Linked DNA regions of Homo sapiens: all the other regions are linked to region 2. Evidence: fine-mapped expression QTL. A gene starts in region 2. Each other region holds a variant in brackets. All regions are shown on one strand. Distances are between the middles of the regions.

Evidence for each region. PIP is the estimated chance that this variant, and not a neighbour inherited with it, causes the effect.
Region 1: its variant is the best candidate, but not a certain one, in a credible set for the expression of ROBO3 in subcutaneous fat (FUSION, PIP 0.62).
Region 3: its variant is the best candidate, but not a certain one, in a credible set for the expression of ROBO3 in tibial nerve (GTEx, PIP 0.58).
Region 4: its variant is the best candidate, but not a certain one, in a credible set for the expression of ROBO3 in monocytes (TOPMed, PIP 0.51).

Annotation. Positions count from the first base shown.
Region 1 is chr11:124,888,648-124,896,266 of GRCh38, forward strand. ROBO4 (roundabout guidance receptor 4) reads right to left here. Exons shown (of 18, transcript NM_019055.6): 4 at 7,551-7,619; 5 at 7,138-7,265; 6 at 6,810-7,038; 7 at 6,434-6,546; 8 at 5,554-5,722; 9 at 5,213-5,398; 10 at 5,041-5,083; 11 at 3,019-3,155; 12 at 2,652-2,915. It overlaps LOC107984406 (a long non-coding RNA gene), which reads left to right and starts at 3,152. Exons shown (of 2, transcript XR_001748429.3): 1 at 3,152-3,485. The variant G/A (reference allele first, on the strand shown) is at 3,998.
Region 2 is chr11:124,861,328-124,868,946 of GRCh38, forward strand. It overlaps ROBO3 (roundabout guidance receptor 3), which reads left to right and starts at 4,105. Exons shown (of 28, transcript NM_022370.4): 1 at 4,105-4,410; 2 at 7,475-7,619. The coding sequence starts at 4,251. RefSeq lists enhancers at 1,580-2,081, 4,421-5,097, 7,147-7,619.
Region 3 is chr11:124,912,706-124,920,324 of GRCh38, forward strand. HEPACAM (hepatic and glial cell adhesion molecule) reads right to left here. Exons shown (of 7, transcript NM_152722.5): 7 at 6,500-7,619. HEPN1 (hepatocellular carcinoma, down-regulated 1) reads left to right here and starts at 6,545. Exons shown (of 1, transcript NM_001037558.4): 1 at 6,545-7,619. The coding sequence starts at 7,046. The coding sequence ends at 7,312. All of the region lies in intron 1 of LOC107984406 (a long non-coding RNA gene), which reads left to right. The variant C/T (reference allele first, on the strand shown) is at 4,928.
Region 4 is chr11:125,054,081-125,061,699 of GRCh38, forward strand. No RefSeq gene overlaps it. Among named protein-coding and RNA genes, the nearest start is that of SLC37A2, 5.4 kb to the right of the region's middle. The variant CT/C (reference allele first, on the strand shown) is at 3,050.

The DNA of each region.
Region 1 (7,619 bases), 27 kb after region 2:
TGGAAGCTGTCATCTGGCCCACATGGGCAGTGGAGAGACAGGGCTCTGAGTGAACTTTCACAACAGAGAAGCTGGAAACTAAAGAGACAGCCCTAACTATGTGCAATGACCTGTGAGCATGCTTCTTGGTCAGACCAGAATGCAAAAGGGATCTAAGTTTAAGCCAGAGAGGAATAGGGTAATACAGGAGAGAGATTTTTCCAGGAGCAGGAACCTGAAGAACATCAGACAAAGGAGAAAAGAAACAGCCTTTAGATTAGTGTCCCATGACCAGAAGCCCAGCTAGGAAAGAGTTTCCCCTCTTGGTGGACCAGGGACCAGGCAGGACCTTCAGGGTAGAGCTATCTAGTCAGTCACATATCAGAGATCTGGGGGCCACTACGGGCAGCTTCAGAGAAGGGAAGTGAGCCAGGCTTTGGCATTGACCAAGACCCCATTTATGTACTAGTGGCCAGACCTTCTGATCCTTTAGGATGAAAACTCATCAATGACTAGACTCCCTCCGTCAAAGTTTCCTTTGGTACTTTGGCTGTTTGGTTTTTATTGATTTTCTATAGCTTTCATATGACCCAGGTAATCTGGGGAGCCAACTTCAGGGTTGGTGCACCAACTCTGCTATCATCAGCTATGTCTTGTCTGGTGCCTGGCTTCTTGACTAAGCTCAGAAATATGAGCACAAGTTGGTTGGCTGGTTTGAGTGGAAAGGGAAAGAAAACAGCCAGGCCTGGAAAAGGCCACTTTTATCCTAGCCTGTTTCACTTCCTCTAAGGGACTCTGGTAACAAAAGCCCTCCTCCTATGTTGCTTGGAGTTACTTGGACTTTAGTTTCAATTCTAATTGAATAAACTGGACAAGAAAAATGTTATCAAGGTGAAAGGTTGAAACTCATTGGTCAAATTGCAATAAATATTTGTTTGAATAAAATAATGAATGAATGAGGATATTCAGTGCATATATCTGGCAAACTGAGCAGAACTAAGAACCTGCTATGATGGATGAGAGACAGGAGACTGTAATTGTGAGGATATCAGCACTGGAGAAGAAACCCCAACTAAGGCCAAATAATAAGAAAAAGGAACAAGCAGGTCAAGGGGAGTGGGTGGTACTGGGAGAGCCTGCCAGTTTTAGAAGAGGAAGAAACAGCAGTAGAATCAACTCCATGGGTCTGGAGAAGACCATAGCATGATCTTGTTGCTGCTGAGGTCCTGGGAGGTAGAGGTAGAATATCTAGTGTCTACCAGCCAAGGAGTCGCTGCAGTTGACCTATCCTGGGGGCAGTGGTGAGATGGGGCTGGAGCGAGGAGAAACAGGGAGTGAAGTAAGGACCTAAACCACAGGCTAGGAAGCCTCATCTCAGAATTGGAACCCTTCTTAAGAACTGGCTGTAGAAAACCACTCACCTCTTTCCAGTAGCATTACTGTTCTAAGAGGGGCTATCCATTCCATTAAAGTTGGTGTAGTTCTCCCTGGGAAGGCTGTTTTTTAAATGAGACTATTCCACCTTTTTTTTAGCTGGTGTTTCGTTACCACCAAGGATTTATAATGCAATAGCTCTGAGGCAAAGCTGGTAAGAATGCCAGCTTCGCTGATATTTACAGTCATAAAATTCTGGATATTGAACAAGCTGTTAATTATCTTAATCCATCTTTGTCTTATTAAAAGTTGGATTAAATCCACTTAAAAAAAAGACTTGGCTGTAGAACATTTGTTAGGTCTTACTAATTAGTACAGAAGACTCAAGAAGACAGCAGGTAGATTGCAGGCCAATGTTCTGCAGGCCAGAAATAGGAAAAAATACTCAAAGAGAGAATAGGATTTCCTGAGGGAGCTCCAGAGAGACTCAGAATCACTTCAGAGGCAGACTATCCTGCCTTCAGATTTGAGTCCTGCAGCTAATTACTTGCAGAATTTTGAACCAGTAACTCAATCATTCTGACCCTCTTCCTGTCTGTAAAATTAGAGAAATAGTAGCTAGCCAATCTATTGTGAGGATTAAATGAAATAACAAACATAAGTAAAGCACCTAGTATATAGCAATTGATAAAAAATGGAGGCTATAATTATTTTTCTCTGAAAAGTCTAAGAATGCAGCTGGGAGTCAGGAGATAAACCTGTCCAGAAAGGAAATACCCATTCCTCTCTGAGAAGTGAGTTGGGAGTCGGTGCCCAAGCACACCTGTACATAGTACACCAGGAGATGAGCTCGTGGGAGCCTGAGGCTTTGTGCCAGCACTGGTCACATTCCCCCAGGCTCTAGCATTACTTGTTTGCTAGTCAACACTTTCGTTAGACAGGCCCTGAGCCCTTAGAAGTCAGGGGCTGTGTCTGACGTCTCTTGTGTTCCCCATGTTTGGCATGCAGTGGTGCTTATTAAACGTTTGCTGAGTTGAATTGAGTGCAGAATTAGGGCTCACTGCTGGTGTAGCCAAACTGAAACAAGAGCACAGTGCAAAAAGCTGAGGCTATTGCACCCCTAGCTGAGTGCTCTGGTGGTAGGAGAAAGAGGTCTTGTGTCCACCTGGAGAGGAGAATGGAAGGAGGGTGTGGAGGTTGCACGCCCCTCCAGGCTTTGAGGCCTTGTTCCCATCACATTCCCATTCCTGGGCCCGCCTACCACCAGCTCAGTCTATGTCTATTCTCCCCCTCCTTACCCTGCTTCTTTTTGGCCTTCCAAGCCTCTGCAGGGGCCAGAGACAAGCGGGGAGAAGAGAGTCCCCTGCGGCTGCAGAGGCTGTCTGAGCTGGAACAGGGGCTGGAGAGCTGGGCCAGCTGGGGTGGGAGGCGCCTGACAGCTGGGACCTGGGGACTTGGCCTGGCTGGGGTACTGGAGGGCAGCTCAGCGATGAGGGAGCCATAAAAAGTGCTGGTGTCTGGAAGCAGGGGCACGCCGGGGCTTCGGGAGTCCCAGGAGAGCACTGTGACATAAATGACAGGAGGAATTATGGTGAGCATGTCCTGCTTTCCATCCCTGAGATCACTGCCCCCAGCTAGGCCCTTGCCCCCACTGAGCATGCTCACAGGAGCGACGACAGTCTAGTGGGTCCCGGGCATCCGCCCCCAGCCGACTGCTGAGGCTGCTGCTGCTGCTCAGGTCCCGAGAGCCAGAGGTGGAACGCCAAGTGTCTGCCAACCACTGGGAGTCACTGTGATCCATCCTGGGGCAGTGGAGGGAGGGGGTGAGGCCAGGAGAAACAGGGAGAAGTGAGAACCTTTTTGGCCAAGACTTCCTGTTCAGAGGCAGCAGAAGAGGGCAAGGAGATGGTGGCTTTATCCTTACTACTGCTTTTCAGCTTTTCACAGACTCCTTAAGATCTCTGACCTGGTCCCCTAAACCCAGCACCCCTTTCTTATTCCTGGATGAGGGGAAATCCGAGTCACCCAGAGCTGGGAGGTAGTAATGACAGACAGCTATGTATGCTGAGGTAAAAAGAAGACCTGAAGACAAATCTGGTTTGACAATCTCTATCTGTCACAGCTTAGCTTGGGTAAGTACATCTGTTGCACTTGGGTAAGTACATCCTCTCTAAGCCCCAGTTTTCTCATCTGTAAAATGATGGCAATAGGGCCTTCCACACTCAAGACTGATGGTCTGGGTTTATATGAGGAAATGTGAGATCACTCAGCTGGCAGAGCAGGAGCTTGCTCCATGGATATTGGCCTCTGGCTGCCTGAGTGATCCTTCAAGAACAGGGATCTGAGCAAGGAGCTTCTCTGCGTAAGACCTTCAATGGCCCCTCATTTACCATGATAGAGCCCAGGTACCTAGCATGGCTAAGAGGACCTTCCTTGGTCTGGCTTCCAGCTCCCTAACTATAGCCTTTGCTCTGACCCATCTCACACCCTATACCCGAGCCAGAACAAATGGTTTGTCTTTCCCTGTGGACATAGCAGGCTATTACTTGCTGCTTCATTGCTCTTCTCTCCATCCCCTTCTTACTGTCAGGGTAATGTGGAATCTTCTTTCTCCTATGTTTTTCCACATTGACCCCCTCCATGT[G/A]TCTTGTACCTGCTTCTGCGTGGCCAATACAGGATTGCACTCATATCCCCTCATGCCTGTCTCTGCCTACACTGAGAGATTCTGGCAGGTGGAGGCTATTCCAAAGGAAAGAATGAACCAAAGATCAGAAGGAATCTCCCTCAAGGACAGAGCAGGAGATCCTAGGGAAGCCACAGAAAGCTTAAGGCAGAGCAGACAAAGCCAGGAGGTAGCTGGAAGAAAGAAGCCAGTGAGCTCAGAAAACTCAAAACACAACACCAGCCAGCTTGGACCCCTGCTCTGGGCTGAGGACCTGACAGTGAAATGGCAGCTCTAGGCCTGGATTTGCTGGCACATAGTAGGTGCTCAGTAACTTCTGTGGATAGATGCAGACCTGGAGTGGGAAGCCTCCCAGAGGAGATCTAGCGAAATAAAGAGCCAAGAAGGCAGACAGAGAGATGAGGCGGTTACTTAGTACAAAACTCAGACAACGGGAGCAAGAAGGATGTGTTCTCTATCAGCATGATGTCCCAGAACTGCAGACTTGTTCTGGCAGCCGAATATACCGGAAGCAGAAGGGCCCATGGGCAGATCCTGTTTTTGAGAACAGTGAGGAAGAATCTATGATGTAGGCACTGAACACCCTCTGCTGGAGCTGCGGGTGGACTATGATGTAGGCACAATGGCTCAGTGAGAGAATTACTGAGTGCAAAGGCACTACTTGGTAGACCATGGGTGCACGCATAAGATGAGACATTTGAGGTGGTCGTCTCATGCTGATTATTCTCCACCTAGCGGGTGAGGCAGCAGGAGAGGTGGGGTGACAAGAGTCCTGGATTGGGGGTTTAGAAGGTTTTATGAGTTTCAGTTTACTAGTCTGTCAAGTGGTGTGATAGGAATATTAATGACAGAGAAATGAACTATCAGTTGGAGTTACAGGAGAGATTCATGTACGACAGTCCCAAACTCCCTGGCAGGTAGACTAGTACTCCATTCTTCTCTGTTGCAGCTCCACTGTCCCTTGCCACCCTCCCTTACTTCAGACCTCCCCTTTCACCTCTCACCTGTGTTTTAGGATGGCATCCTCACTGGTATATCTGTACAGACCTGGGAGAAGGCAGGAGGAAAGCTAAATCCAGAGGCTGGATCACCTGGTCAGAGATCCAAAGCCCCTGCACCATTCTGGCTGGATGCTGAGGAGGCCTGTATACATGTGGGTCCCCCTCAGACTCTCACCTGGGCCCAGGTGCACCCTAGCTCGGCGCCGGCGGTGGATACACACGGCGGTGCCCAGAAGCAGCAGCCAGAGTGCAACACCGCAGGTGGCAATGACCTCAGGCCGCTTCAAGGTAGCCCTCAGCTGCTCCAGGGTCCAGGGACCATGCTCACTGGGTTCTTGGGTGGCTCGCTCCATGGCCTGCTCTGTATGGGATGCAGAGCTCAGAGGGAGAGGGAGTCGAGGCATTGAGGGCCTGGCAGGCAAGGGGGAAGAGCTGGAAGTGTGAGGCGGGAGCAGGGAGAGAGGAAGGCGGGATGCAGGCTGAAGGGTAGGGTGGGTCTGTGGGCACTGCCCTCACCTAAAAGGAGGCAGACAGGTCTACTGGGCTCCCCAGCTCCAGCACCAGTGACTGCAGCCACTTGCACGCAGTAGGAGCCTGGCATATGGGTGGCGATTTCCAGCTGGGTCTGCTCACCAACTACAGTCCAGTTGGCTGGTGGCAGTGATGTGTTGCCCAGGCTCCAGACCTGAGGCACAAGCAGAGGTGAACAGCTTCCCCAGGCACCATCCCAGAAGCCAAGCCCTTTATCTGCAGATCAGACTCCAGGGGTGTGGTTATTCTGCCCTGCCATCCACTTGGGGAATGCACCCAATTTCCTATTCCCCTCCTATTCTCCCTACCAAGTGAGAGATACCTCTCTCTAGATCAACAGTAGAAGGGCACAAGCAAGCTGCTAAAACACATGTAACATAGCAATTCTCAAACAACAGCGTGCTTCCAAGTCACCAGGGGGGCCTGCTATAGTACAGTTTGCCAGGCCCATCTCTGAGTTTCTGATTTATGAGGCCTGGGAAAGGATCTGAGGGTTTGTATTCCTAACAAGGTCCTGGGTGAGGCTGATGTTGCTGCTCTAGAAGTCAAACTTTGAGCCCCACTCCCTGACTCACAGCCTGGTTTGATCTACTCTGTTTCTTATTCCTGTGGCCTTTGCCCCACTTTCCATGTCTGTAAATTGGGGATAATACCCCAGGGTGGACTGTGAGGTAAAACGGGATCATGGAGGTCAAGTGCTTGGCAGGGTCTGGAAGCCAGTGGGTCCTTGCTCAGCAAAAGCAGGTTTCCTTTGCTTCTCTGCCCAGGTACCTTTCTCAGTGCCCAGAGCAAGGGTATGCAGAACTCCAGAGAAAAGAGATGTCCTGGCAGCAGTAGGAAGGGCTATGACAGCTAGTGGGGGTACCTGGTAGCCACGGATGATGCCATTGTGGTTTTCAGCAGGTGGTGGGACCCAGCTCACAAAGACAGTGCCATTGCCAGGCTTTAGAGTCACTTCCTGAGGTGGGGCACTGGGCACTGGAGGGGTGGAAGAGAGACTATGAGGGGCTCTGAGGGAGAGGACTCTAGGGAAAGGAGCTGGGCTGGGGGACACAGCGTCAGAACCCTACTGAAGAGACAAGAAGCCTCTTGAAGCTCTGCTGGCCTGGCCAGGGCAGAAGGGAGTCCCAGGGTAGGACCCATAATCTCCCCTCAAGACTGAAGCAGAACAGTCCAGGGGCCCCCAAATAAGAAGGAGCCAGAGGGGATATTGTTGGCTTCTGAAGGGATCAGGCCCTGACCTTTTTCCGGCAGCCTCAGGAGCAGCACGTTGCTGTCAGGGCCTCGAGCCCGGCCAGAGGATGGTCTCACTTTGAACTCGTAGTCTTGGCCCCAGTGGAGGCCTCCAAGCTCTGCGCTCTGCCAGCCGGCCAGCAGCTCCTCTGCCCACGGAGCTCCCTGGCCTCCCGGGGCAGTCTGGGTCCTGAACAAGGCCGTGTAAGATTGGGCAGGCGCAGCAGGGCCACTGACCTGGGAAGGAGTTTCGAGGAAGGGCGGGGGGTCAGAGAGCTCAGGAACGCCCTTTCTTGAGCTCTGGATCGGCTTTTACCCTTAGCACCTGGTCCTCACCTTCCAGCTGAGCCACACCGCCGGTCTAGGCTTGGGGCCCTCTGCAGGATCCGGGTTCAGCAGTGTCACATTTTCCAGCTGAATTCGCACAGCCAGAAGCTCCACAGGCTCCGTGTAGTCCTGGGGCTCTGTGGGGAGGATAGGGCTGGGCTGGGGCTTATAGGCCAGAGTGACAGAACTGAGGCGTGGAACATCCCTCAGCCAGGGAGGAACCCCAGGGAACCCAAACTCCCAGAGTCTCCAGGTCTTGAGCATTCCGATTTCTACTCTAGCAGGGGGGAACCTCCCGCTACGTGAGACCCCCAGCACTTTGACCCTGACCCCACATACCTTAACCCCAGCCCAAACCAGAATACACCACCCCAACTGGAGCCTGCAGCCTGGCTCTGATTGTAGCCCACCCCTGCCCTTACCCTGGATGGAAACCCGGGCTGCGCGGCTCTCCCTATGTCCTGCGCTGTTGGTGGCCACACACATGTAGG
Region 2 (7,619 bases):
TTGAGCCAACACACTCTGGCTCCTGCCGGGGGCAGGCTCCTGCTGTCTGCTTTCCAGCTGGGTGCCTGCTCTTTGCTCTCTGATTCCCCCTCCTGTTTGGTTCTCTGGCCCCTGCTGGCTGGGTCGCTGCCCCCTGGCATCATCACTCTGAAGCCAGCAGCCCTGCTGGGCCATTCACAGGCATACCCTAGTGGGGGTAAGGGGCAGATGTTATTTCTTTGTCCCCCTCCCAGCAAACACACACACACACACACACACACACACACACACACAATCTCACACTCAATATGTATTAATGTCCTGGGAAGGGGTCCAGGCAGAGAGTGATGGCAGGCTACAGGCTCTGGGGGGATGCAAATGGACCGGACAGTGTGTGTGTACATTGGGGGGAGGCAGTGGTAGTAATGGGGGGTTGTCTTCAGACTGCACTCCTGGGCAATTACATGCCAGCAGCTTCATCCACTACCAGCCGGCATGCAGGCTTTAGACCACCAAGAAGCCTCCCCATATGGCCCCAGCTTGGCCACTGAAAATTCCCAGCCACATTCTCTGGCCGATATGCTGGCACTAGGCCAAGAAAGTTAGCCTGGGGTAGCTGTTCTCTCCCCTAGCACGTGAACACACACACACACACTCACACACCAGTGGGGGGTGGGATGGAGAGTTCCTTTAGAGGCTCATGATTCCCAAAACACCACTCTTGTGTAGGGTTCCTGCCTTACTCATAATCACTTGCCCTTCCCATTTCCCATGTTCCTCTGCAAATCCACCCACCCAAAATACCACCATAGGAAAGAAATATTCCTCTTCTATATTACCTCATCAACTCCTGGCCCAGGGCTCTTTTCTAGGGCTCTACCTGTGAACCCACACATGCACACACACGCAAACACACACACACACACACACTTCTTCCCATCAGATGCTGTAACCTTATCAGAACAAACTTAGCTCCTAACTCTACAAATTCAACTCGCCCCAACCTCCCTGCTTCCTGCTACTCTCTCTTCTTTCTGCCAAATCTCCTTCAAAACCTCTGTTTCTTTTTCTTACCCTTTCTAAAGTCTGGACTGTACATATTGTTGGTAAAACTCTGGGAAAGAAGTAGTTTCCTGAGGTGGTAGAAGAGAGGGTCTCTAAACCCAACTCTGACTCTTTCTCCAGCCCAAGGTGGAAATTTATAAGTCAACAGAATGAATGCACCCCGGCTGAGGCTCCTCCAATTGCAGGGCATCTACTCAGTGTTTTAGGTGCTGTACAGGCACTTACAGTTGACAAATTAGGAAATGGACATAGTTGCAAAGAGTTGCATACCCACTCCAGAAAAAGGACAAAGAGTTGTCTTGGTAATTTTCAGAGAGCAGAGCAGGCAGTGAGGAGACTAGTAGGAGGCAAACCCCTTTCAGAACTGCCTATGGGGGTAGCCAGGAGAGAAGCTGGATGTGGACAGGGGCAGGGCCAGTTTCTAGGCTGCCTGTCTGACCCTCAGTAAAGAAGAGAAGGTGGGGAGAGGGCTGCAGAAGAGCTGGGAGGTGTGACTTCTGCTGGGCCTTCTCTGCCCACTCTCTGCTCCACTCTGCCTAGCCCAGGGCCGTAAGGACACTAGAGAATGGGAAGGAAAAGGGAGGGAACTTAGGTTATGGTTGGGAGGTATTTATTCTCTGATATCCCCAGTTGGGAGAACTCAGCCCTCTTGGCTTAGATCTGAGTTTGGTTTAAAAGGAGAGTATCATCAAGATAAAGAGAAGTACAAAGAAGGAAAGAGCAGAGAGAAACAAGAAAAAGTGGAGAGTGAAAATTAGAGAGAGCCCAGACGAGGTGAAGTGTAGGAGAGACAGCAGATTCCTGGAAAGTAGAGTGGCCCGGCTATTTGTCCAGCCTCCAAACCCACGTGACAGGGACTGTGAAGCAGCCTTGCTCACGGGTTGAGCCGCGCCTCCGCTCAGGGAACCCTGAGCAAATACGCCCTGATCCCCACATAAAGGGCCAATTAACTGCGCCGTCTCCGGGAACAAATCCGCTAACAGGGTGACAAGCCCCTAGACGCTGGCAGGCCCTGTGTTTGCGGAGAGGCCAGCCGGGAGCAAATCAGGGCATTAGGACCGGGCAGGAGCCGCATGGTGGGAGGGTTTCTGGCCCCCTCCGCCCCAGAGTAGGGCCTGGTACCAGGACGTGGGGTTTCTATCCCGATTCAGCCTCTGCTGTGATGGAACCCAGGTGACCGCGGTCAGCAGGGGGCGGAGCAAAGGGCCCCGGAGCCTCGAATCTCACAGGTCAGAGTAGATCAAGCACTCCAATTCCTCCTTAACAGATGGGAAAACTGAGATCCAAAGCGGTGACGTCTTGTACTTGGCAAACGTAGAATTAGAACCCACTTCTGTGTTGGTCATTCCTGAAGGATAGATTTCGGGTGGGAAATACATCCCTTACTTTCTCTCTTATCTGAATACCACCCTGGAGCGAGGAAGGGAGGGGCGTCAAATCTCTTATTATCTTCTTGCTTTTGAAAGGATGTGTCTCTAGCCCGTCTCCCACCTACCCCAGTCCTCAGCCTCAGGGTCTGCTCGGATTTATGTCTTCCCTGGGGGCTCCAGGGCCCTAGTCAGGCACCTGCAGATGAGGTGCTGAAAAGGACAGCTCCCAGGGCGCTGCGTGGCGGTGGGGTGGGGGGTCCATCCGGCCCCACCCCCACTCCCACCTACCCCCTCCCCCACACCTAGTGCTTCCAGCCTTTCTACGTCCCGCCCAGAACTGCTAGGGTTGGAAGGCACCTAAACACCCATAGTTGGAGGCTCACAGCCAGGCGCCTGGACTGAGGAAGGAGGCTTGGAACAAGCCCCCCACCCCTTGACAATGTCTCGGGTTCCCTTGAACAAGCTCTGCCTGAAATATTTCAATTCTTGATTCTGCTTACTCCAGAGTCTGCGACTGTATAGCACCCACCCCTCTGATCTCGACCCCTTTGGGGTCAGAAGCAGTCGCCCCATGAAAGTTGTCTCATCCCAGAACCTGACGGCTGAGCCAGAACTCTGGCACTGACTCTTCAATCAGCAGGGCCTTACCTCAGGTTAGGAATGCCCCGGCCTCTCTCTTTCCCTGATACCCCAAAGCCATCTCCTGTCTAGGAAAGTGAGTTTGTCGAGGTGGGTCTTCAGGTAGAAAGAACTCCAGAAAAGTCAGAAGCAGACCGCGACTGGAAGTGGGAGGTGGGAGTAGGGGCCCATGGTTTTCTTTTCGCCCCCCCCAGGAAGGACGACTGCTATCCGATTTGAACAGATTTGCACTAATTTTGCAGCAATCCCACATGCCTTTACAAAAATAATATTATCTTTGTTTTTGTCCTAGAATCCTTGGTTCCATTTCAGTCTCCTCAAAAACGTAAAACAATTTAATAAAAAATGTCAAAGCAGGGTAATGTAAAAGGATTCAAATAAATGACAGTTGCCTGGGTTTCCCTGGCTTTCAGTCTCCTACAGGAACTCCTAGATTAGGGCGTTTGGAGCAGGACTCCCGGGTCAGGGCGCGCCGCTCCATCCTCTGGCCTCCTGGCTGCAGACCAAAGGACCAGAGGGCAGAGAGGTGGACCTGTCTTGGAATTCTCTGCCTACTCCCAACTCTTGCTGCAAACCACCCCAGTCTCCTGCCCTTCCGTCGCCAAACCCCTAGACTTGGGAGGGAATGGAAACCAGAACTTTGGCAGCAAGGAGCATTGCTTGCGCTTTGCCTCAGTTTCCAAAAGGTTCGGGAAAAGAGAGGACAGATTCCTGTTCTAAAGTTGGGCAGAAGGGCAGAGTCCGACAGAGCCTCGTCCCTCATCTTGGGTGCTTTGAGACAGGGAAAATCTCTCGCCGCGTCCAGAACGGAACGCTGGGCTTGGGGTGCGGGGCGGGGACTCCAACTCGCGCGCTACGCTACTCGTGTCTCCTGCTCGGATAGTGACTGTAGAGGTAAGGGTGGGAGGGTGGAGGGAGGCGGATTAATCCCTTAATTACGCCGTGATCGGCGTGGCACCTGCTTTCCGCCTGCCCAGCTCCCAGGGGACTCCGGCACTAGGGGGTGGAGAGAAGGACGAGGGAAGGAGGAGGGCACGAAGAGGCACCGACCGTACCCAGGCGCACCGGCAGGAGAGCGGCACCGTGGCTGCCGCAGCGCGCAGAGGCTGTGGAGGGGCTTACGGCTCCCAGCCCACGGGTCTCAGACCCAGGGGCTGGGCCCCCAGCCCCCAGTCCCGATCCCAGCTGGGTCGAGCCATGCTGCGCTACCTGCTGAAAACGCTGCTGCAGATGAACTTGTTCGCGGACTCTCTGGCCGGGGACATCTCCAACTCCAGCGAGCTGCTCTTGGGCTTCAACTCCTCGCTGGCGGCGCTCAACCACACCCTGCTGCCTCCCGGCGATCCCTCTCTCAACGGTGAGACCCTGCCTCTTGGGGATATGGGATCCTGGGATGGGGATGAGGTGAGAGGGCGGCGTGGAAGGGAAGGAGAAGCGCTCCTGTCCCGAGGTCCGGGATTGAGTGGCGCCTCCCAGCGCCTCCCTGGGTCGTGGGGTCTAAGGGATAATTTGGAGCTTCGAGCACATGAGTGGGGGTACCCGCGGGAGGTCGAGGGCTTGGGAGAAGATGGCTACTGAGTCTTTTTACACCTCCTTCCCTTCCCCTACAACGCCCACCCCAGGTGAGAAGAACCGTTGCTGGTAACGGGCAGGGAAGTCCGAGCTAAGAAAGGCCCGGGCCCAGCGCAGGGAGGGCAGAGGAGGGGGCACAGTCTCCCGCCGGCCTCGGCCAAGCCAGGTCACTCGGTGACCCACCCAGGCAGCTGGTCTTCGGAACCCCGAAGTTTCCCAAGAACTCACTTAGGACCAGAGGAAGCCAAAATGCTGGATGTGTTTGCTACGGAGGGGATAGGGGCGGCGATCATTTTAAGGAAACTTAGAAGTTTGTCTTTCAGCGGCGGGACTCTCAGCCGGCCCACCCCGGCAGAGCTGTGGCGGGCGGGCGGAGCTGGCGGCGAGGTCGTTACCGCTAATTACGGTGATTAATAAATGACTGGGACAGCGCGCTCTCCCCTAGCGCCGCGGGGAAGCTGCGGGAGCCGGCCGCCGCCAGCCTGCGGAGAGGCCGGAGCGCGCCCCCTGCCTGCCGCATCGGGAACCCCCGCTTTACCGGGCGCTTTCGCGTGTGGTTCCCTCCAGGTGCACGCGGTCCCCATCCCTCTGCCTCGACCCACTCGAGTCTAGTGACGAGCACTGTGCTGGGGACTCGAAGGTGGAGAGAAAGGAGACCCTGGCAATATGTGTGTGTTCATGTGTGGGGCACATCAGGTGCTGAGGGAGGAGCCCCAGAGCCTCATTAGCATGGCCATTAGCTATTCATTAGGCTGCAGTCGAAGCATCTCCTGAGACCGGGAAGGGTAGAGGGGGAAATTCCAGGGAAAGGGCGCCTGCAGCTGTGTCTACAGGAATTAGGGGGAAAAGGCCGACCAGAAGGGTGTGGTCCGTATAGAAGGATTGGGGAGAAAGACGATGGGGGAGGAGCCCGATTCTCCAACCTCTTGACCCTCCTAGATTTCCAGGAGGTTAAGCACAGATCCCTTCTCGCTGGCACCCCGCAGAGTCCCGCTTCTGCTCACCTAGCGCGTTTACAGAGTGTTTTCACCATACTTTGTCTCATCTAAGCTCGAAACTTAGTGAGGTATGCAAGGAAGGTGTTGACAGACACATTTTGCCGCCGAGAAAACGCTTTATAGAGTGAATGGTGCCCTAATCGTCACAAAAGCAGCATGAAGCAAAACCTAGCGATAACAGATCAGTCCATTTCCATTACACCTGAGGGCTATACCAAGGGGAAAAAAGAATATTGGGGCCTGGTAGAATTTGATTCAGGTAGAGACTGTAGGAGCCAAGATAAGGTGCATATGCTGGGAACACAAGCCCTTAAATAATGGCAGAGTAGTGACGTTTATCCCCCAAGGGCTTTACATACATTATGGTCTTAGAGCAACCCTATCACTGCTCTCACATCACAAAGAAAGAAACTGAGACTGAGAGAAGTTAAATAATTTGCCCAAGTTCTTACAGCTAGGAAGCGTCAAAGTCTGAGATTCCAGCCCTGGTTGGTTCAACAGCAACACTTGCTCTCAATCACTCCAGTGTTGCTCACCACGGGGTGTTCCAAAATTGGGAATGGGAGGAGATGGAGGAGAAGAGAAGGGTGAAAAGCAGAGATTTCCATTTGGAAGGGAGGAGATGGAGAAAATTACTCTCCCAAGTGGGACAGAAATCGATCTTCTTGACTCCAGGCAATTAAAATAAACTCAGAACAGCGCCAGCACGGGTCAGCCTGTCCAGCTTTGTCTACAACAGAACTTCTAAGAGGGGGGGCAGGAAATGAAACCCAATCTCACAGGCGGGCTGGAAGCGGGAGGTTCCTGCAGATTTTGGAACAGGGTAGGAAGGGGGGAACAGGGGGAGGGGGCAGGGGGCAGAACAGATGCTTGAAGTGGTCCCTGGTTATTTTACAGCAGGTTATTAAAGGCTGCAGTGGCACCTACTGGCCGCCACGGGTTACAAATCCACTTTTGTTGGCTGGACTAGGGGCTGAGAGTGCCGGAGTATAACAGGCTCCGGGATCCTAACCGTGCTGCAGAAGGTGAAACAGGCCAAAGTCTGCAGGCCAAGTGACAGGTAGGACAGAATATGTGGATGAACTGATCGGAGTGAACAGGGGAAGTAGAGGAACATCAATCAGTAGAATAATCTATTGGAAACTATGCACCTGTCAGGAAAAGGAGCCTTACTAACATTTCTACTGCTATTTGCGTTCAATTCCTGTGACTTCACAGGACCCTTGAAATGAAGCGTGATTATCCGGGGTGTCAGTAAGAAGGGCCCTGTGCCGATTCATAGAATCCAGGTTGACAAGCCCTTCTAGGCCCGGCCCTGTCACTCCCGTCTTGCCTTTCATAAGGGATCCCAAGCCAGTCCACATTCCCAATTTCACTGAGCCAGGACCTTGCAGAAGTCAAGAACAAACTGTTGGCTCCAGTGCACGGTTTATGGTCTTTCACTGAGCAAGGACGATCCGTGAACCAGTGCAGGTGGAGATGGAAACCACTGGGCAGGAGGCGAGGGAGCGGTCTACTCGCCAAGCGTGGTTCAGCCACTCCCGCTTAAACTTGGCAGGAGAGGAGACGGAGGTCTCTAGGTGGTCCAGAAAGCCGGCCTAGAAGTTTGTGTCCCGATCCCTCTACTAACCGGCCTGTCTGTAGGCATCTTCCTTTGAGACGAGGAACGCGGAACGTCTGCCAATAAGGACATATTGGATCCTGCAGAGGGAGAGGGTAGGCAGGTGGGGACTGAGCTCCGCAGAGAAGCATAGGAGATGGAACGACCAGAGGATTCTCTTTCCCTCTGGAGCCTCAATCTCTCCCCACAATTTCCCTGTCTGAACGCTCTGCGCCACCCCCTGTCCCCAGGGTCAAGGGTAGGACCGGAGGACGCTATGCCCCGCATCGTGGAGCAGCCGCCAGATCTGCTGGTCTCCCGAGGCGAGCCCGCCACGTTGCCCTGCCGCGCTGAAGGCCGACCCCGACCCAACATTGAGTGGTACAAGAACGGGGC
Region 3 (7,619 bases), 51 kb after region 2:
CTCTGAGTTCACAATTTTCTTTCATCACTTTGTCCAGTGAACTTAGGAGCAACCAACCAACTTCATTATGTTCCTTGGTTCTCCACATATGGTCAAAGTTATTATGTACAGAGTCACTAAACTCCTTGCCTCTCATGAGCAGTGAATCAGGAGTGTCAAATGCACTTATTTTGCATAACTCTGTAAACAGCTCATGCCAGGGACTATTAGTGTTCTCCATACTATTAGAAGTAGAGTCCTTAGCATTTTGGGGTCTAATCATATTTAGCAGCCAACTCCAGAAACCCCAAAACCAACAAAAGAACTCCATCCTTAATATTTGTTGGTACCAAAATGTGTATTACTCAGGGTTCTCTAGAAAGACAGAACTAATATATATATTATATGTATATAATATATATATCATATATATAATATATAATATATATAATATATATAATATACATCATATATATAATATATATTATATATATTATATATTTCATATATATAATATATATAATCTATAAAATATATAATATATAATATATAAAATATATAATATATAATATATAAAATATATTATATATATTATATATAAAATATAAAATATATAATATATAAAATATATATTATATATAATATCTAAAATATATATTATATATAATATCTAAAATATATATTATATATAATTTATAATATAAAATATATAAAATATAGATTATATATAATATATATAATATAAAATATATATAATATATAATATAATATATATTTTATATTATATATAATATGTAAAATATATATTATATTATATATTATATAAAATATATATTTTATAATATATATTTTATATATAATATATAATATATAAAATACATATTATGTATTATATATCAAATATATATTATATATTTGATATATAATATATATTAGATATATAATATATAATACATATATGGGAATTTATTAAGGAGTATTAATTCACACAATCACAAGGTCCCAAAATAGGCCATTTGCAAGCTGAGGAGCAAGGAAGCCAGTTTGAGTCCCAAAGCTGAAGAACTTGGAGTCTGATGTTGGAGGGCAGGAAGCATACAGCATGGGAGAAAGATGTAGGCTGGGAGGCTAAGCCAGTCTAGTCTATTCACGTTCTTCTGCCTGGTTTTTGTTCTGGCCACGCTGGCAGTTGATAAGATTGTGCCCACTCAGAGTAAGGGTGGGTCTGCCTTTTCCAGTCCACTGGCTCAAATGTTAATCTCTTTTGGCCACACCCTCACAGAAACAGTCAGGAATAATACTTTACATCCTTCAATTCAATCAAGTTGACAGTATTAACCATCACAGTGACCTTCTTTGTCTTTTTTTATAGTTTTTGTCTTGAAATCTATTTTGTCTGATATTAGTATAGCTACTCCTGCTCTTTTTTGGTTTCTATTTGCATGGAATATTTTTTCCATCTCTTTATTTTCAGCCTATATGTGTCTTTGTAGATGAAGTATGTTTCTTGCAGGCAACGAATTGTTGGATCTTATTTTGTAACCTATTCAGCCACTCAACATCTTTTGTTTGGAGAGTTTAGTTTATTTACATTCAATGTTATCATTGTTAAGTAAGGACTTACTTCTGCCATTTTGTTACTTTTTTTTCTGGTTGTTTCATGGTCTTCTTTCTTCTTTTCTTCTTTCCTGTCTTCCTTTTAGTGAAGGTGATTTTCTCTGATGACATGTTTTAATTTATTGCTTTTTATATTTCGTGTTATCTGTTGTAAGTTTCCAAATATGAAGTTACGATGAGGCTTGCAAATAATATCTTATAACCTGTTGTTTTAAACTGATGACAACTTAACAGTGATTGCATAAACAAACTAACAAGTAAAGAGAAAACTGATAAAAACTCTACACTTTAACATCATGCCCCTACTTTTAACTTTTTGTTGTTTCTACTTATATCTTATTGTACTATGTCTTGAAAAGTTGTAATTATTATTTTTGATCAGTTCATCTTTTAGTCTTCCCACTCAAGATATGAGTAGCTTACACACCACAATTACAGTGTTTTGATATTCTGTCTTTTTGTGTACTTACTATTACTAGTGAGTTTTGTGCCTTCGGATAATTTCTTATTTTTTATTAAGGTGCTTTTCTTTCAGATTAAAGAACTCCCTTTAGCTTTCTCATAGGATAGGTCTGGTGTTGATGAAATCTCTCAGCTTTTGTTTGTCTGGGAAAGTCTTGAATTCTCCTTCATGTTTGAATAATATTTTCACCAGACATACTATTCTGCAATAAAAGTTCTTTTTCCTTTGGCACTTTCAATATATTATGTCACTCTTTCCTGGCCTGCAAGGCTTCCACTGAGAAGTCTGCTGCTAGGCATATTGAAGCTCCACTATATGTTATTTGTTTCTTTTCTCTTCCTACTTTTAGAATCCTTTCTTTATTATTGACCTTTGGGAGTTTGATTATTGAATGTCTTGAGTTAATGTTATTTGGGTCAAATCTGCTCAGTAACCTTCTTGCACTTGAATATTGATATCTTTCTCTTGGTTTGGGAAGTTTTCTGTTATTATCCCTTTGAATAAACTTTCTACCCTCATCTCTCGATTTTCTCTTGAAGGCCCAAAACTCTTAGATTTGCCCTTTTGAAGTTATTTTCTTGATATCGTAGGCATACTTTCATTCTCTTCTATTCTTCTTCCTTTTGTCTCCTATAACTGTGTATTTTCAAATAGCCTGTCTTCAAACTCACTAATTCTTTCTTCTGCTTGATTAATTCCACTATTAACAGATTCTGATGTGTTCTTCAGTATTTCACTTGCAGTTTTTAACTCCAGAATTTCTACTGGATTCTTTTAAATTATTTCAATCTCTTTGTTAAATTTATCTGATAGGATTCTGAATTCCTCTCTGTGTTCTCTTGAATTTCTTTGAGTTTCCTCAAAACAGCCATTTTGAATTATCTGTCTGAAAGGTCACACATCTGTGTCTCTCTGGGATTAGTCACCGGTGACTTATTTAGTTCATTTGGTGAGGTCATATTTCCTGAATGGTCTTGATGCTTGTGGATGTTCATTGGAGTCTGGGTTTGTTTGCACCCTTCCTTCCTGGGAAGGCTTTCTAGGTATTCAAAGGAACTTGGGTGTTGTGATTTAGTTTTTGGTGACTGCAGCTGTATCTGCATTAGGGGGCACCCCAAGTCCAGTAACACTGTGGCTCCTGCAGACTTGAAGAGATACCACCCTATGGTCTTAGATAAGATCTAGAAGAATCCTCTGGATTATCAGACATAGACTCTTATTCTCTTCCTTTTCTTTCTCCAAAACAAGCAGTCTCTCTCTCCTCTCCTCTCCTCTCCTCTCCTCTTCTCTCTCCCTTTCTCTCTCTCTCTCCTTCTCTCTCTGTTTGTGCTGAGCTGCCTGGAGCTGGAAGAAGGGTGACACAAGTATCCCTGTGGCCACCATCACTGAGACTGTGCTGCGTCAGACCTGAAGCCAGCACAGCACCAGGTGTCACCAAAGGCCTGTGGTAACCACTGTCTGGCTACCAGCTATGTTCGCTCAAGGCCCTAAGGCTCTAGAGTCAGCAGGTGGCAATGCCAGCCAGGCTTGTATCCATTACTTCAGGGTGCCAAGTTTCCACCAGTCCTGGGCAGGTCCAGAGATGTCACCTGGGAGCCAGGGCCTGGGGTAAGAAACTTTAGGAATCTACCTGGTGCTCTATTTTACTCCAGCTGAGCTGGCACCCAAGCCCAAGGCAATGTCTTTCCCACTCTTCCCTCTCCTTTCCTCAAGCAGAGGTGTCTCTTCCCTTGGTCACCACTGCCCCAGGCCCATGGTCAATACTGCCTGGCTACTGCTGATGTTCATTCATGGATCAAGGGCTCTTGAGTCAGCTTATGAATGCTGCTAAGCATAGGACTCTCCTTTCTAGGCAGTGGGCTCCACTATGGCCACTAGGGCAGGTCCAGAAATGCCATACAAGAGCTAAACCCTGGAATTGGGGACCCCAAGAGCCCACTTGGTTCTCTACCGCACTGAGGCCACACCGGTACCTAAGCTGCAAGACAAAGTCCCCTTTATCCTTCCTTCAACTTTTCTCAAGCAGAAGGAGCCCCTTCCCATAGCCACCACAGCTGGAAAGGTGCTTGGTGACATCTGAAGCCAACATGTCTCTTAGTCTCACCCAAGGCCAATGGCAAGTACTGCTTGGGTTCTATTGCAAATTATTGAGGGCCCTTGGGCTCTAGAGAGAGCAGGTGATGAATGCTGCCAGGACTGGGTCATTCCCTTCAAACCAATGGGTTCCCTTCTGGCCCAGGGTGTCTAGAAATGTTGTCTGGGAGCTAGGGCCTGAAATGGGGGACTCAGGACTCTGTCTTATGCCCTATCCTACTGTGGCTGAGCTTGTCTTATGCCCTGTCCTACTGTGGCTGAGCTGATATCCAAGTTGCAATACACAGTCCTGTTTACTCTTCCTGCTCCTCTCCTCCAACCACAGAAAGGAGTCTTTTTCAAAGCTGCAAGCTGTGATGCCTGGTGTTGGCAGAGGGATGATGCAAGCACTCCCTTGGCTGCACCAGCTGGTGTCTCACTAGATCATATGCTCAAGTCCACTGGCTTCAAGCCCAGCACAGCATCAGGAATCCCCCCTAGAATTGCAGTCCTTGTGTCCTAGACAGACTTTTAAAAGTTTATTTAGGACCCCAGAGCACTTTAACCCATGGTCGTGAGTCTTTTTGGAATTCAGGTTCCAACCACTGGGATGTGTAATTCCTCTCTGGCGAGGGCTGGTCTAAATGCTCCTTCTGTGGGTGCTGGCTGAGTTCTGCCTGGTGTTGTTTCTCCCTGTGACAGGGCAGCACTGCGTTCCAATGCAAAGCCCCACAATGACTGCACTCTCCCTCCCGCAAGTGCAGAGATTCTCTCTCTGTTCCATGCGGCAGCTGC[C/T]GGGTGATGAGGGAGGGGTGGTGTCAGCAATTCAAGACTGTCTTTCTTACCTTCTTCAGTGCCTCTTTCAGTGATATGAAGTTAAAACCAGGTATTGTGATCACTCATTGGATGTTTGGTTGTTATGAGGGTGCTTTTTTTGTGTGGACAGTTGTTCAATCTGGTGTTTTTGCAGGAAGACAATCAGTGAAGGCTTCTATTCAGCCATCTTGCTTCACCTCCCTTGGTAATCTCATATTTAATGAGTGCTAAGTACTTTGAGCTCACTGTGCTTTTAAATTTTGTTTTACTTCTGACTGCTTAAAAATTTCCCCCATCTCTGGCAGGGAAGTGGCTCATGCCTGTAATCCCAGCACTTTGGGAGGCCAAGGTGGGCGGATCATGAGGTCAGGAGTTTGAGATCAGCCTGGCCAACATAGTGAAACCCTGTCTCTACCAAAAATACAAAAATTAGCTGGACATGGTGGCACGTGCTTGTAGTCCCAGCTACTCGGGAGGCTGAGGCAGGAGAATCACTTGAACCCAGGAGGCAGAGGTTGTAGTGAGCCTAGACTGCGCCATTGCACTCCAGCCTGGGTGACAAGAATGAGACTCTGTCTGAAAAAAAAAAAAAAATTCCCCCATCTCTTGAAGCCAGCAATGCAAAACAAATATCATTTAAGCAAGACCTAGTTGTTTTGAAACAGGAAGACCTCTCAAACATCTAGTCTCAAGTATTTAGCAGAGAAGTTCCACATATCACTTTTTACCTGTTGCAATCTGGCTTTAACCCCTACTACATGTCTGAAACTACTTATGCCAAGTCACTCAATGTTTTCATTGTTGCCAAATTTAACATGCACTTTTAACTTCATTTCATATGTGAGCCCCCTGCCCTTGTAGTCCCGAATGCTCCCTTTTTCTTGAAACTCTCTTGTTCTTTTGATTGTGTGATATAGTTATCTCCTATATATTCTCCTATCTTGCTGGCTGTGCCTTTTAAGCCTTCTTGGTGAAGTCCTTTTAAATTTTCTACACATACTGATGCCTCAGAAATCTATCTGCAGCTTTCTTCACCTTCTACTTTGTATACTTTCCTGAAATAATTTCATCAACTGCTAGGCTCAGTACCCTGAATTCCCCCCCATCGTGTCTTGCACTTCCAAGCTTTTATACATGCTTCTCCCTCTGCTTGGAGTGTGTCCTCTCATACTTTTAAAAACCAGATTAACTAACAAGTCTTTCTAAGAAAGACTCAACTCAGGTCTGTTCTCCTCCAAGATGCCTTTGCTGACATCTAATCTACATGCTCCCAGAGCACCTTGTATCTACTTCTGCCATTGCATTTTACACACTATATTGTAATCTGTTTACTGATCTGTCTTCCTGACATAGTTATGCTGTATCAGCAGTGTCTAGCACAGGGCCTAGTCCATGGTAGGTAAACAAATGTTTGTCGAATAAATAAAAGAACACCTGAATAAGTAAATGAATGAACGGGTAAGTGATTTTGGAACGGACAATTTGGGGTTTGGAAAGAGGGTAAAGGAGGTGAAAGGAGAAGAAGAGAAATGACTGGTATATTTAAGCAGCTTGTTTTGTTACCCTTGTTTATGTGGAATAAAGTTGTCATTTCATTTCATCAAAAGTTTATTGAGCATCCAGTATGTGCTAGGCACTCTGCTGGATGCTAGTAATACAAAGATGAAGATGAAAACAACACAAAAACAAACCCCACTTCCTTACTTACCCCTCCCCACCCCCAATTTAAGGCAGATTTGGCTTAAGCCTGGCAAGCTGGCCCCTCAGGGATTCAGCACCAGGGTATGGCATGTTCTCATCTCACCCTAACCTTCACCTGTGCATCTCAAGGCTGACCAGCAGGTACTCCTTATCCAAGTCCTGCTGCCTCTTCCACCTTCTTGAGAAACTTTTCCCCTACATGCATTATCTCATTATGGATGAGGCACCTGGGAAGTTTAGGGGAGCTGCGAAGGCACACCTGCTCAAATGAGCCTGGGGAAGTGCCGAGGGACAGGGAGCTGAGACAGGCATGCTGTGGGGTTCAGGGCAGAGGGGGCAAACTAGAAATGTCAGTGCCTTTGGGGCTGAGACAAAACTTGACCTGGTGTGGAGGTGATGGGTAACTGGGGCCTTGGAATTGCTCCATGGGTTGATGGCGAATCAGAGCTGGAGTTTAGGAGACTAGGGATGCAAGGACCCTTGGAGGCATTAAGGAGGAGGGAATGGAATACACAGAGGGCCTCCTTCTCTTTCAGCTTTTTAATTGCCCTCTCTCCTCACACAGTAGATTACTGCCACTCCTATGAACTGTTCAATAGGCGGTGGCATGGGCATGTCCTGGCTACACAGCGGCCCAGCCTCTTTATTTTGATGTTAGTGTGATTAGGGAGTCTGCCCTTTTTCTGTGCCCTGGGACCTGAGCATGTGGGAGCAGGGCAGATGGGTGGCAGGAGGCCAGGGGTTGGATCATGTTCCCCCCAAATGCTGGGAAGCAATAAGCCTCCTCCTCCCCCCACCATTTCTCTGGAGATTAGGACTTATTCTCACAGCTGGAGGAAGCTCAACAACTTTCCTGAGGACAATGATTGTTTGAAAGGCTTGTTTTGTAAGGAAGCCAGGAGGAATATATGAGTTTGATGAGCTAAAACAGTTCCTCATTTGGTCTAGTTTTCGGGCCAGGGGAGTAAGT
Region 4 (7,619 bases), 190 kb after region 2:
CTCTAGACAATACATTATTTTCCACTGAAACATAAATTTTTTTCTACATCCTCTCCCATTTCGATCAAAATAGTCTGAAAGAAAGACTATGCTTGATCACAAAATAAGGCCGGTCTCATTGGATTGGATCTAACTATAAGTACGGTAAGCATTTTAATTTACCACAAAAGTCTCCTTCAGTTTACATTGCTGGAAGTTTTCATAAGGAATTTCAGATTTAACTTTTAAAATACTTGTTAACTGGACTGTGTATTTGTTCATAGTGCATCTGTTTTCAACGTGATTGGATTGTTAAATTTTGAGGTGTGTGTGTGTGTGTGTGTGTGTGTGTGTGTGTGTGTGCGTGCCTTAAATTTCATTCTGTGCAGTAGACGAGGACTTGATAAGACAATAACATGAAAGAAACTGAAGTGTTTTCTGGCTTTTCTAGAGATATCTGGGCATGTCCATTTCTCTCTAGCTGAAACTCTGTTATCATAAACTAGGAAGTACTTGTTTCAATTCATTACTAAGAAGGGGGAGAAAAGGTTTAGTAACAGTGATCAGAAAATACTGGACAAGCTGAACATGGTGGCTCTCACCTGTCATCCCAAGGCTGAGGGGGGAGGATGACTTGAGGCCAGGGGTAGAGACCAGCCTGGGCAACATAGCGAGGCCCCTATCTCTAAAAAGGCAAAAATAAAAAAAAAAATTAATTGGGCATGATGGTACATTCCTGTAGTTCCAGCTACCCAGGAGGCTGAGATGAGAGGATCACTTGAGCCCAGGACTTCGAGGCTGCAGTGAGCTATGATAGCACCACTGCCCTCCAGCCTAGGTGGCAGAGAAAGATCCTGTCTCTAAAACAAATTATTTTAATTAAAAAAAAGGAAAGAAAATAGAAATTACTAAGGCATGCTTTGGCATACAGTGAACATTTGGATGTTAATTTTGAAGAAAGAAACATTTGGGCTTGAGAATGAGTTTCTAAGAAGGTAGAGTGGATCAGCACTCTTTTCCCAGAAATTTCCATCTTGATCTTGATTCCTGACTCTTGTAGCCTGTTCTTCGTATATTTTACAATAAGGAATGCCAACAGTGTACTAGGAGCCAGGGCTCTCAGGCTAGTGTTACAGAGTTGTAGGGAAATTCTAGGATGAAGTTTTTGCTGGGACAAAGCAGATGAAAGAGTTGAGTTTTTCCAGATCTGGAGCTTACCTGTTGGGGATGCTGTAGACATCTAGAGGCAGCAGGGATATCTTCAGTCTTTATTGTGTAGTGCTGGTTTGTTTATTCAGACCTTCTTTAATCTTACTAATAAAACTCTTCACTTGAAGACCTTTCAGTCCTTGCCTGTGAAAGGCATGATTGTTCTTCTTGAAGTCACATGCTTTTGATTTCTAAACCCATTTCCATTTTCATTTGTTCAACCTGTTCTCCCTGTTTCATTCCTCTTGCTTCACGATGTTACAATAAGAATGCATTCCTAGTTGTAGACCTAAGGAGCAGTGTAAGGCAGGGAGGCATTCCCACAACTTCCTTGAGCCTATCTTAGGCTTAATTAAGCCTATCATAGGCTTAATTGGTCACAGGGACAGAGGTTAGTCCCAAATGATAAGAAGGAATCTGTTTCTACAAATGGAGTGGCCCTTGGGGAGAGCTTCTGTCTCATCTTTCCACCAGCATCACTGTGTGAACCAGGCATGTCTGTTCTCTGCAAGTTAAATTTGTTTGTCTGAGTAGTAGGGAGGAGTATTATCTCCTAGCCGTCTAGAGGTGCCGATGAAGCTGTTCGATAAAAGCAGAGTTACACGTTTAAAAAAATAGCTCAACATCGCTGATCACTAAAAAAATGCAAATCAAAACCACAATGAGATACCATCTCATGCCAGTCAGAATGGCTATTATTAAAATGTCAAAAAACAACAGATGCTGGCAAGATTGCAGAGAAAAAAAGAACGCTTTTGCACTGCTGATGGGAGTATAAATTAGTTCAACCATTGTGGAAGACAGTATGGCAATTCCTCAAAGACCTACAGACAGAAATACCATTTGACCCAGCAATCCCATTACTAGGTATATACCCAAAGGAATATAAATCATTCTATTATAAAGATACATGCACAGGTATGTTCATTGTAGCACTATTCACAATAGCAAAGGCATGAAATCAACCCAAATGCCCATCAATGATAGACTGGATAAAGAAAATTTGGTACATACGCACTATGGAATACTATGCAGCCATAAAAAGGAACAAGATCATGTCCTTTGCAGGAACATGGATGGAGCTGGAGGCCATTATCCTCAGCAAACTAATGCAGGAACAGAAACCCAAACACTGCATGTTCTCACTTACAAGTGGGAGCTGAATGATGAGAACACAGGGACACATGGCAAGAACAACACACACTGGGGCCTGTCAGAGGCGGGGTGGGGGCTGGGGGTGGCACTGGCTGGGTGTGGAGGGAGAACACCAGGGGGAATAGCTGGGCTTAATCCTTAGGTGAGGGGATGATCTGTACAGCAAACCACCATGGCACACATTTACCTATGTAACAACCTTGCACATCCTTCACATGTACCCCTGAGCTTAAAAGTTGAAGAAAAAAAACGAGTATCGTAACTTGGAATCCAAGGCACAGTACTGAAATCTGTATTGCTAGTGAGGTACTTGAGTTAATATGGGCAGCTGACCATGCTGCTCCATAGCATATTCTCCAAAGGAAAGATTTCTACTTAAAAAGTAAATTTCTCCCATCCTGTTTCTGGAATTAGAAAACTGAGAACTACTAAAAGGAAATTAAAGTTGACAGAGCTTTTATATATATAAGACTTTTATAAACTAAGGATAGATTCACGGGGAGTTACAAAAACAGTTCAGAGGCGTCCTGGTACCTCTTACCTAGTTTTCCCCAGTGATTACATTTGACATAACCGTAGTACAGTATGTGTGTGTCTGCTATTTTATCACATGCATTGATTTGCGTAAACACCAATGCAAACAAAATACAGAACTATTCTGTCACCACAAAGACCTCCCTTGTGTTACCCCTATAAAGTTACACCC[CT/C]CTCAACCACCACCTTCCTTAACTCCAGTCCATCTCTAATCCCTTTTCCATTTTTATGATTTTGTCATGTTGAGATTGTTATATAAATGAAATCATACAGTATGTGACCTTTTGAGATTGATTTTTTTTCACTTGGCATAATGCCATTATGTCAATAGTTCATTTCTTTTTATTGTTGAGTAGTATTTCATGGTATGAATGTACCACAATTTGTTTAACTTTATTGAGGGGCATATTGGTTGTTTCCAGTTTTTTGTTATTATAGATAAAGCTGCTATGGACAATTCATGTACAGGTTTTTGTATGGATGGAAATTTTCAGTTATCTGGGATAAAAGCCCAGGAGCACAATAAGTGTATGGTAAGTGTATTTTAGTTTCTTAGGAAAGTGACAGCATGTATTTGGGTAATGTTTTTTATCTACTCTGCCAGGGGTGGCGGGGGGTGAAAGTCCAGGTTTCCTATTTGACCTCTGTTAACATCCCTGGTTCGGGGAGGCAGGGCAGGGCACCTCATTACTGCTTGAAAGGGTGGGAGTTCTGGCTCTCCACTAGGCCTCCATTGATATCGCCCTGTATGGGCTCCTTACTGCTCCCCATGTGACCTCCATGACACCTTGGTGGTTGGGGTGGGGCGCTCTTTACCATTGGAAGGTGGTGAAAGTCCTGCTTTCCCACTTGGAGTTCTCTGACACCAGCCAGGCGGTGGGCGGGGGGGCACCCCTCATTACAGCCAGGTGCAAGTGGAAGTCTAGGTTCCCCACTGGCCTTTGCTGATAAGGTGGGGTGGGGCTGCAGTGTTTTCTATGAGGTTTAGTTGGAGCAGGGTGGTTATTGCCACGCTACCCCTTCCTTGGTCCTGTGGCTAGACAGAGCCAGCATTTCTGAGAGCTTTGGTGTTCTGTCTGTGTCATTGGTGCTTCTGGATTTGCTGGCTTCTTCAGCACCCAGTCCGGGATATATGAAGCCAAGAGCAAACCCAGATAACTCACCACTGTCTTTCCTTAGATCTCAAGGTCCCTCGCTGATCTGTCTTCTCTCCACTTTTCAGAGTTTTCTTATGCTTGCTTTATATATAATGTCAATGGTTTTTAACGGTACCTAGCAAGAAGAATAGAGAGAAGTGTATCTCTTCTATCTTCATCCAGAACTGGAAGTCTGACAAAGCCCTGTTAAATGGCCATTTCTCCTCTGAAAACATAAATCTGATCCTGTCTTCACCCTTAAAGCTGTCTTATAGCACCCAACTGTCTAAAGAATACAGTTCCAACCTGTTATTGTTGACATTGAAGGTTCTTCACTATCTCACCACATGTAATAAGTCATATCTTCTGCAGCTCCCCACCTTGCACATGTACTCACCAGCTACAAAGAATGTCTTATGCACCATTTCTTCAATGTACCATGCTTTTTCATGGTTCCTTATTTTGCACATGCAATTTTCCGGTTCCACCTTTCTCCTCTTCACTTGGTATGCACTAAGCTGTTCTTCAAATCTAGTTCTTATGTTGTCTACAGTAAGCCTTCTGAGACTCTCCTGGAGTTATTTGATCAGTGCCACCATATCAGCATGAACATTTTCTTGTTTATATAACCTATTTCTTGTTTGAGTTGATCTCTTCTGCCAAGCTTTTGAAGTGGGATTATCTCTATACATCTCTGTCCCCTTTGACTGTAAATTCTTTGGGATTAGGGACTGTGTCTGTCTGTTTTTTTTTTTTTTTTTTTTTTTTGAGACGGAGTCTTGCTCTGTCGCCCAGGCTGGAGTGCAGTGGCGCGATCTTGGCTCACTGCAAGCTCCACCCTCTGGGTTCACGCCATTCTCCTGCCTCAGCCTCCCGAGTAGCTGGGACTACAGTCACCCGCCACCACACCTTGCTAATTTTTTTTTTATACTTTTTTTTTTAGTAGAGATGGGGTTTCACCGTGTTAGCCAGGATGGTCTCGATCGACCTGGTGATCTGCCCACCTTAGCCTCCCAAAGTGCTGGGATTACAGGTGTGAGCCACCGTGCCTGGCCTGTCTTTTTCATTAATGTATCCTCAGCACATAGCACTGTGCTTGGCACATAGTTGTCACTTAACAAATGTTTGTTTGTTTGTTTATTTATTTATTGAGACGGAGTCTTGCTGTGTCTCCCAGGCTGGAGTGCAGTGGCACGATCTCGGCTCACTGAAACCTCTGCCTCCTGGGTTCAAGCGATTCTGCTGCCTCAGCCTCCTGAGTAGCTGGGATTACAGGCGTGTGCCAGCATGTCTGGCTAATTTTTGTATTTTTAGAAGAGGAGGGTTTCATCTTGTTGGCCATGCTGGTTTTGAACTCCTGACCTCAGGTGATCCTCCCGCCTTGGCCTCCCAAAGTGCTGGGATTACAGGCAACAAATATTTATTAAGCAAGTAAATGAATGGTTACTTTCAGATACTAGAACAACTAAACATTGTCCCCAGCTGTGTGACCAGGCTGAGACTACCTCACTTTTGTCATTACCATATATTCCTTTTAATTTTTCCTCTAAACAAGGTGACTTTGGGAAATTTTCATAATTTAACCATTTCTTCATCCTTCTCCTCTCTTCCTAAGGACTACTGGCTGTCAGGCTGTCTTTGTATATACCTGTTGTCACTACTGGTATCCTAAGGAGGTTGACCATTTGAAAGCAGGGCTGCCCTGTTGGTTGACTGATAGGTCTCCAAAGCCCACTCTTCAGGCCATTATGAACCATCAATCTAGTCTTCAGTACATTGAAACCCTACTTTTGGCCAGTTATATAAGGGCTGGGATGTTCTTTGCTAAGCATTCCAGAAGTTTGACTTCTATTGAGAAATAAGATATTTTTGAATACCTTTGGTCACCTTGCTTATCTATCTTTTGACTGTTAGCTGGGAAGAATTTAGTAGTAATTCTTAGTGAGATTTCAGCATCCAACATATTTAAGACAATAACTTCTTTCATTTTTATGACACTCTACTCAAGCCATACATACATCCTTGTGAACCCCAAATTATTCAGCACGTATTACCACAAAGCTTACAATAACTCAGTGGGTTAAGTTGTATATATATACACACATACACAGATACACACACAAGCACATTATATTAAGGATTTTGCAGTCAAAAATATATTTTGTTATACCCATTGATCCTTTTTAAGAATTTTGATCCTTTAACCCCTATATTTTGTTCTCATTTATGACAGTCATTGGTTTCTGTCAGCTGCAGTCAATATCTGACCCTAATACCATATATATTAGCTCCTGCACACATAATTGCTCCATTTGCAAAACCTATTTAATATGGCCAGGCACTGTTGTACTTTTTGTATGCACATATGTTTTGATTCTTACAGCACTCTGTAAGGTGGGTGCTGTTACACACATTTTACAGAGGAGGGAACTGAGGCTTAGTGAAGTAGTAAGTATCTTGACCAGGCTTGGTTCTGACTCCAAGCCAATGTTCTTTTTACTGCACCACTCCGCCTCTCCATCAAAAGGCCTACTATGAAATTGAATATTTAAAAGATTGAATAATTACAATTTATCCTAATATCCCAGTTCTTACCCCCTTGATCAAGACTGGTCTTGATTGTATTACCAAAAAATATGCTTTTCTCTGTTTAGTAAGACAGGAGTGGAAGGAGGCAAATGTGTTCAAAAAATGATGCTTGTGGATGTGTTAAAATTTTGGAGTTCTGTTACCTAGTGGCTTATTCTCATGTCATTTGTCCTCAAAGACTTTCTTAAGCATTCAGATCCTTCTGTCCCTTTGAAGAAAACAGGGAAGACACTTGTTATCGTGTCTTAAAGGGCATAAAACACCAACTGGCTACCCCAACAGTCCTGTGGGTGGTCATGGAACTTACTAGCAGTAGGGACTGGTATTTGATGGGTAAAATGGCTTCTTTCTCACAAGTGTCTCATACTGAACCATAGGAAGCATTTTTGACAGAGTATAAGGCTATCCATATAAGAACTGAGGATCTTTTCCTTTAGCATTTGATTGAGTAGCTCCTTCCCTCCCTCTTTATTTCCTTCAGATCCTCTCCACATTCTGCAGGGTTTGAGGAGGTAGTGTGTGGGAGGGGGGCCAGATAATAACAAGAAGGTGAGTCGAGAGTGGTGAGGTTGTGTAGGTGAGTGAAGGGACTCCCTGAGGCACAATATCCCTCTTTGTCACTCCCCCAAGCAGCAGGAAGCACAGAGATCATCCAGCTCACCAACAGGAGCGAGCAAGAAAGAGTTCCAACATTGGTGGGAGTGTTCCCACTGCCACCCTGGCCCCTGAACAGGGATACGTGGCTGGAATTCACAGGAAGTAACTGTGACAAGGCAAAGTCTGTTTCAGTACCGGCCCTGCTCCCAGCTACTTGGTGCACTGTGAACAATAGCCGTACTACCATGAGGGCATATTCCTAATGCCTTTCTTAGAGTCCCAGCCTCAGATAGGCATGGTCCCCTGTGAGGCAGGAACACAGCTTCCTGACAAATGAGCAGGAGTGACCCTTATTCTTGGCTTCTGTCTGAAATGGAAAGACAGATGTTCCACACTGCTGAAGTCTGGACAGCACCTCTG